2 linked regions of the Homo sapiens genome follow. The protein of the gene in region 2 purifies or fractionates together with the protein of the main gene of each other region. This does not show direct contact. Each region holds a gene or a part of one and is shown on either strand. Other genes may lie near its edges.

Region 1 (3,809 bases), on a different chromosome or scaffold from region 2:
AAATAAAAACTTAGCTGGGTGTGGTGGTGGGCGCCTGCAATCTCAGCTACTTTGGGAGGCTGAGACAGGAGAATCACTTGAACCGAGGAGGCAGAGGTTGGAGTGAGCCAAGATTGTGCCACTGCACTCCAGCCTGGGTGACGAGCAAAACTCCGTCTCAAAAAAAAAAAGACATTTATTTATTTATTTATTGAGACCTGGTGTCTTGCTCTGTCACCCAGGCTGGAGTGCAGTGGTGTGATCTCAGCTCACTGCAACCTCTGCCTCCCGGGTTCAAGCGATTCTCCTGCCTCAGCCTCCTGAGTAGCTGGGACTACAGGTGCACACCACCACACCTGGCTAATTTTTGTATTTTTAGTAGAGACGGGGTTTCACCATGGTGGCCAGGCTGGTCTCGAACTCCTGACCTGAGGTAATCCGCCCACCACAGCCTCCCAAAGTGCTGGGATTACAGGCGTGGCTATTAGCCTCGCCAAGTTAAGATTCTTGATGCCAACCAATCACCCACTCCATGTTTTTCAGGATTATAAACACTAGTCATAAAGCATGAACTGCCTGGGGGTGGTGGCTCACACCTGTAATCCCAGCACTTTGGGAGGCAGTTGGATCACCTGAGGTCAGGAGTTTGAGACTAGCCTGACCAATATGGTGAAACCCCACCTCTAGCTGGGTGTGGTGGTGTGCACCTGTAATCCCAGCTACTTGGAGACAGGAGAATCGCTTGAACCTGGGAGGTGGAAGTTGCAGTGAGTGGAGATCATGCCATTGTACTCCAGCCTGGGCGACAGAGCAAGACTTCATCTCAAAAATAAGTAAGTAAAGCTCCAACTGTTTGTTCCACCTATTCTCTGGGCGGGGTCCTGTGCTGGCCCTTTCAAGGAAGGTCTCGTATAACCCCCCCAGTGACTGTGAGGTGAGTCCTATTAAGGCCTGCACTCTGCAGATGAAGAAACAGGCTCAGAGGGGTAACAGCTCTTCCCCAGGAGGTGCAGCTGGTTTGGGGTGAAGCTGGAGTTACCCTGAGTACAGCCTGACTCCAGGCGTCAGCTCCACGGCCTCTTCCTCTGAGACACGGTTTTCTCATCCGCCAGCAGGGCTCTGCCTGCTTCCCGGGGCTGTTAGAGGCTGGCAGGCCAGGTCAACGGAGGAAAGGGACCTGTGCTCTGTGCCTCAGAAGACGTAGGCGAGGAGCAGGCATGAGGCCTCAGGGACGGTCTCTGAGGGAGGGTCCTGGGCCCTGGGCTGAGAAAGCAGGGGTGGAGGGCTCCACGTGGAGACCCCAGGCTGGGAGGGGACTCACCGAGTGTGGTGCTGGAGAAGGTGGAGCCATGGATGCCCGTGTGTCTGCCCAGCTCTGTCCTGGCCACGCCGGGGTGCAGGGCGTTGACAGTCACACCAGAGCCTGGGGAAGAAAGAAAGAGAAGACTGAGGGAGGGGTCCAGCCTCACCTGGGAGGCTGTGGCAGCCCACACCCAGCTGTGGGGCTTCCGGGCACCAGGCTGCTTCCTGCACTCAAACCCCATCGTCCCTCTTGCTCTGGAATCTTAGTGAAGTGGTCTTATCTTGCGGAGCGGCTCTGCCACATGGCTGCTGGGAGCCGAGCTTTCCTGGAGGGCTTCATAAACCCAGAACGCTGAGCTTACCCCGGGAGCCTGCATCGGTGCGTGGCGGTGGGACCTAAGATACTGTAACTCTGACCAGCTCCCAGTGGGGCTGGCACCGCTGGTCCACAGACCGTCTTTCAGAAGCAAAGGCCTAGCACAGATTTCTCAATCTCAGCACTGTGGATGCTGTGGGTTGGGAGGAGTGAGGGGCCATCCCGTGCGCTGTAGGACATTGAGAGCATCTGGGCCTTTACCCTCCAGATGCCCAGAGCAATCTCTCCCCAAGCCAGCTGTGATCACTGTGTTTCCAGGCATTGACAACTGCGGGTCAAAACTGCCCCTGGTTGAGACTCACTGGCTGGAGCCAAAAGGCTGAGCTGCCTGCCCAACAGCAGCAGGGAAGGACATCTGATCCAGGCAGACTAGACCACCTGGGATGAACAGACAATCCTCAGAAGAACGATCGATTAGTGATGTCTGCTTCAGGCACCAGAAGCGGGCAGCGTGGTCCACATGCTCTACTTTTGCTGACTCTGTTCTGGATCCACCGTTTGGCCTCCCATCAGCCTAGGATCATGGAAAGGCCGCTCTAGGCTCAGAGTAAAGCAAGAGGGAGGCCGAGCCTAGCGCCCCCGTACCTTGCAGCCGCCGGCTCAGCTCCTTGGTGAAGAGGACGATGGCGAGCTTGCTCTGGCAGTAGGCGGCTTTGGTGTTATACTTCCTCGTCTGCCAGTTCAAGTCGTCAAAGTCTATGTGCCCAGCAACATGGGCCAGGGACGAGAGGTTGATGATCCGCGAAGGGGCTGAGGCTTTCAGCTTGTCCAGCAGCAAGTTTGTCAAGAGAAAGTGACCTGGATTAAGGATGATGAAAAGGTCACTTTTGACTCACACCTAAAATCCCAGCACTTTGGGAGGACGACGGGGGAGGATCGCTTGAACCCATGGTGCAGCCCCTGCCCAGGCCTCACCCAGGTGGTTAACGCCAAACTGCATCTCGAAGCCGTCCTCGGTGGTCCAGTGGGGGCACCGCATCACACCCGCGTTGTTGATTAGAATGTCCACTCGCTCCTCCTCTGGAAGAGAGGGGTGGAGGAGGAGACATCCCGGTGAGGACAGACCCCAGCCTGATGCACCAGCAGAAACACTCCTGTGCTCCCACAACCTGTGAATGTGGCCTGTGCCGGAAACAGGGTCTGTGCCGAAGTGGCCATGTCAGGATGCGGTCATTAGGGTGAGCCCTAATCCAATGACTGGTGTCCTTATAGGAAGGGAAAACAGAGACAGAGACACATGGGGAGAAGGCCATGTGTGGACAGAGGCAAAGACCGGAGAGGCACAGCTCCAAGGTGAGGGTGGGCCGCCCCCGCTGGAAGTGGAAGAGGCTGGGAGGATTATGGCCCGTCTCACAGGTCACAGCCACAGGGACACCGCGATTCAGACTGCCGGCTTCCGGAACCGTGAGGGAATGCACGTCTGAGGGTGTAAGCCACTGGGTTTGCAGTACATTGTTACAGCAGCTCCAGGACACTCACACGCCCTCCGCACCTCCATCTAAGCCTTGGGACTCCTTCCTGCCGGAGCCCCGAGGCCAAAAACGGGAGGTTACCGGTGGGAGCCCCGGCACCGCAGGCGTGGTTTCATTCCCAAACCTGCCACCTCACTCATACAAGCAACCAAAGGACACACAGATGGAGACTGCAGCCTCAGTTTCCTCAGCTGTAAAATGCGCTGAACCACAGGGCCTTCCTCCCTGTACCACTCAGCTCGGGTTCCGTAACAAAGTGCCACAGACAGGTGGTTTAAAACCTCACAGACCTGGCCGGGCACAGTGGCTCACGCCTGTAATCCCAGCACTTTGGGAGGCCGAGGTGGGCAGATCACCTGAGGTCAGGAGTTTGAGACCAGCCTGGCCAACATGGAGAAACCGCGTCTTTACTAAAAATACAAAATTAGCCAGGCGTGGTGGCATGCACCTGTAATCCCAGCTACTCAGGAGGCTGAGGCGGGAAAATCGCTTGAAACCAGGAGGCAGAGGGTGCAGTGAGCCGAGATCGCATCATTACACTCCATCCTGGGCAATAAAAGCAAAACTCCATCTCAAAAAAAAAAAAAAAAATCACAGTCCCAGAGGCTGGAAGTCCCAGATCAAGGTGTGGGCAGGGCTGGTTCCCTCTCAGGGCCCTCAGGGAGGATCCGCTCTGGTCT
Region 2 (3,809 bases):
ATCAGGTACCGTCGCCGTGTCAGGTCCTCCCTGAGAGTGGCCAGAGCTGGGGGAGAGACACAGAAGGGAGGCAGGGAATGGGCATGCCTGAGGAGGGGCACACAGCTATGTGTGTGACTGCAGTGGGGAACCAGTAAGCAGCATGCAGATACGTATGAAGGGAAGGGAAAGAAGAGACAATCTGAGGGACCACAGAAGTTCGGGGGTATGGGGAGCCAAGAGGGCAGAAGCGGCACAAAAGGGATCCTCACCCATGTCATACTGTAGGCTGAGCTCAAGTTTGGGCCAGAGCATGATGAGGGCAAAGGAAGCATAAAAGTGGACATCATATGTGTTGTACATGCGGTACTCCTGGCCTGGAGGAATGAATGAGACACACTGTTGCCAGAATTCCTGCTTCCCCTTCAAACCCCTCTGTAGCTTGTCCTCTAGATTTAGAGGTGGGGCATTGTTACTAGTCCACACCCAACACCCCCTCATCCTAACCAATACCCTGGGGTAGGCAAATCCATCATCCTGACTTGGGGATGGCCTGCCATATCCCAGCCCACCAGCATCCTGTACCCTCAAGGTAGCCAAATCGACCGTAGTCCCGTAGGGTGGGGCGGAGGTGACACATGTTTCTGCCCAGCTCCTCTGGTAGGGAGTCCTCAAGAACTTCCAGCCACACTGTGCCTCCATCAGCCAGGAAGTATAGTTCATTGAACAGCGCAGATTTGTACCAGGCAGGCAGTGATCTGGGAAGCGAGGAGGAGGAAATGGTTTAAGGAACATGTACCTCCCAAGATGGAAAGGATTTGGGGGTTCAGCAGAGTGGGATCATCAAATGAATCCCAGTGCAAGTCTACTGACTTTGGTGGGTGGAGAGTAAATCGAGGAGTCCCATTTGGAGTGAGTGCCCAGGAGAAAGGCAAGAAATGGGCCCCACTGGCACCTGTCATCCAATACCGGGCTCTGCCAAGCTGAGATCCTCTCTTCCCACTCTGCGTATCGGCACAGTGCATAGTGGCTGAGGGCAGGTGCTGCATCTCCATCCTGGCCAAAGAACCTTGTATACCGCCTGGGGTGGGAAGGGGAAGGATGAACACAAGCCCCAGGTCAGAGCCCCAGCACTCTGGATCCTTACACTTTCTTGGTCCCCTCACCTGTAGTGGACTTGGCCTTTAGCTCCAAACATGATCCTGGGCATGTCCCAAGCCAGTGAAAACTCCAGGCGGCACTGGCCTCGAGGTCGCAACTTGCTGGAAACACACACAGCTCCAGCAATGCCTACTCCTTTCTGCGTAGGGGTGCTTTGGCCTGAGAGAAACACAAGAGAATTCAGGACAGGAGCCCCTTCAGCCCCAGGGATAGGGATCCCTAACATGGAAACAAGGCCTACTTATTACCAGGCCTCCCACCCCTGGTCCCAAGACAGGGACAACCTCTCTTCCCACCATCTCCCAGTCAGACCCCCCATCACCAGTGGGAGAGTCCAGCTGTCCATCCTGAAGTAGATCCTGCCACACCTGCTGCCCCGTGCTGTCAGGGTCAAAGGCTGTGATGTGGGTTACCGTGGTAGCTGCCTGTGAAGGGGTCAGGGACTGTGAGGGCAGGCTCCACGAGTACACTGGGTCCCGGCTAGCTCCCCAGCTCCTCTTACTTACTCTTAACCTCCCAGGCCCAGGGGCTTACAGGAGTATGATGAGGGTGGATGAAGAGACCATGCTGGGGTGGAGGTGGGGTTCAGGGGCTAAGGTATAGGGCAGGCTCTTTCCTTACCGTGACTCGTGCAGCCACAGCCATCGTGTAGGGGTTTGGAAGGGTTGGATGATGCAGGAGCAGCCCCCGGACAGTTTCCCCGCTACGCTCCAGACAGAAGGGCTCATTCCACAAACCCCCTGGGGCATCGTCTCCACCACCCAGTCCATTCCGCATGGAGAACATGATGGACACATCTAGAGCTTCGTCCCCTTCATTTTCCACATCCCACACAAAGACTCCTACAGGCAGGCTGCTGTCCTGGGGGCAGAAGATTAGACTCAGACGGTCCCAGTAGAGCGCCTCCTGACCCCACTCTGCTAGGATCAGTCCTGGGCACACAGAGGACCTGACTCAAATACTCCCCAGTGTACTCTTCTTTTGTCCACTTGCATCTCCCCATATTCCCAGGCAAGCTGCCTAGCAGGGAATATAGAAGACCAGAACCAGTTGGGCGGTGGTTCTGGGAAGCCAGTGTGATGTTCATGGCTCCAACCTCCCTTTCACAGGCCATGCAGTTTCTTTTTTTTTTTTTTTGGGGGGTGCGGTGGCGCAATCTCGGCTCACTGCAAGCTCCGCCTCCCGGGTTCACACCATTATCCTGCCTCAGCCTCCCGAGTAGCTGGGACTACAGGTGCCTGCCACAACGCCCAGCTAATTTTTTTTTTTGTATTTTTAGTAGATATGGGGTTTCACGTGTTAGCCAGGATGGTCTCGATCTCCTGATCTCATGATCCGCCTGCCTTGGCCTCCCAAAGTGTTGGGATTACAGGCGTGAGCTACCGCGCCTCGCAGGCCATGCAGTTTCTAGCAGAGGCAGGTCCTGGGGAAGGGAGGGCAATGGAAGATACAGATGTGGGGGCCTCACCTGGTAGTCATGGGGCAAGATGGGTGTGATCTGACGGCAGGTGAGGGTGACATTCTGGCCAGGAAGCTGATAGACAGTCCAGGCTCGGGGATAGAGGGCATGGTAGAAAGCAAAGTACCCACACAGGCCCCAGTTCCAGCTGCGGAGGACACTTGGGCGCTCCAGGGACAGGACTTGCTGGTACACAGTCTGCCCTTCCCGACGCAGGCACACTGTGAACTTAAGAGGGCAGATAGGCTGGAACGGGGTAAACCACAGGGACCACAGACTAAGTCTTCCCTCTCCTCAAATCAGCTCCTCCCCTTTCAGAGCCTGCAACTGTTACCACTGCACCATCAGCTTCAAGTCATCCCCCAGGCTCAGTGAATCACCAAGTCCTGCTACCTCCCCATCCATCTATCTCCCAAGCTTTCTCTCCCTTCTCCACTACGGTGGTGTTAGCACCTCACTTAAGCCCAATCTCCTGCTTTTTCTGTGGCCCTTTTCATCTGGGTAGCAGAGTGATCTTTCTCACAGGCAAATCAAGATATGTCAGTCCTTGGTTAGGATGTTTCAGTGACTCCCCATGGCCCTCAGGCTAAAGTCTCAACTCTTGCCTGGCTTTCAAGGCCCTTCTTGAGCTGGCCTCTCCCTGCCCATCAGACTCATCACCTGTTCAAGCACCTATAGTCTGTTCATATAAAAACACTCACTGTTCCTTGAGCACACTACATTCTCTCCTCCATGCCTGTGCTCATGCTTGTTCGCTATCTGGTGAAACCTCTCATCCTTCAAAGCCTAGGTCAAAAGCCATCTCTTCCTCCTCTACTTCTTCCAGCAGTGAGTCATTATGTGTGCCCCCCTCCCCTTCTATTCTAGCATTTGGTGTATTATGTTATAATGTATTGACTGACCATTCTGTGTCCCTGACTGCTGTATGGATTCTTCTGAGGGTAGGGACATTTTTTAATTCACTGATGCACCCTTCTTCAGAGTTGGCATGTATGTGGAGGGAATGAGCGAAATCTGCAGCACCGTCCCTTTTTCCACAGTATACTATCCACCCCTCTCCTTTTAGCACTGATGTGGTCTCACAGTCTCCATTTCCCCTAAGTCTTATTTTCTCAAAAAAAGTTTTAGCTCTTGGAGGGTAGGAGCTATGAGGGATTAATATCCCTTTCCCTGGTTCAAACTATGTCAAATATTTTTATTGTATACAGTG

Evidence for each region.
Region 1: the proteins of GBA2 (region 2) and RDH13 purify together in Homo sapiens (affinity purification with mass spectrometry; one large-scale study listed by BioGRID and IntAct). This does not show direct contact.

What each region holds. Positions count from the first base shown.
Region 1 is NC_000019.10:55,046,087-55,049,895, forward strand, and holds part of RDH13 (retinol dehydrogenase 13 isoform 1 precursor), read right to left. Parts: intron 2,678-3,809; coding exon 2,573-2,677; intron 2,456-2,572; coding exon 2,243-2,455; intron 2,172-2,242; exon of another isoform or gene 1,960-2,171; intron 1,403-1,959; coding exon 1,301-1,402; exon of another isoform or gene 1,019-1,300; intron 1-1,018. UniProt on the Homo sapiens protein: Retinol dehydrogenase with a clear preference for NADP. Oxidizes all-trans-retinol, but seems to reduce all-trans-retinal with much higher efficiency. Has no activity toward steroids.
Region 2 is NC_000009.12:35,739,064-35,742,872, forward strand, and holds part of GBA2 (non-lysosomal glucosylceramidase), read right to left. Parts: intron 2,846-3,809; coding exon of another isoform or gene 2,828-2,845; coding exon 2,609-2,827; intron 2,002-2,608; coding exon 1,762-2,001; intron 1,566-1,761; coding exon 1,463-1,565; intron 1,300-1,462; coding exon 1,146-1,299; intron 1,061-1,145; coding exon 935-1,060; intron 738-934; coding exon 565-737; intron 357-564; coding exon 252-356; intron 47-251; coding exon 1-46. UniProt on the Homo sapiens protein: Non-lysosomal glucosylceramidase that catalyzes the hydrolysis of glucosylceramides/GlcCers (such as beta-D-glucosyl-(1<->1')-N-acylsphing-4-enine) to free glucose and ceramides (such as N-acylsphing-4-enine).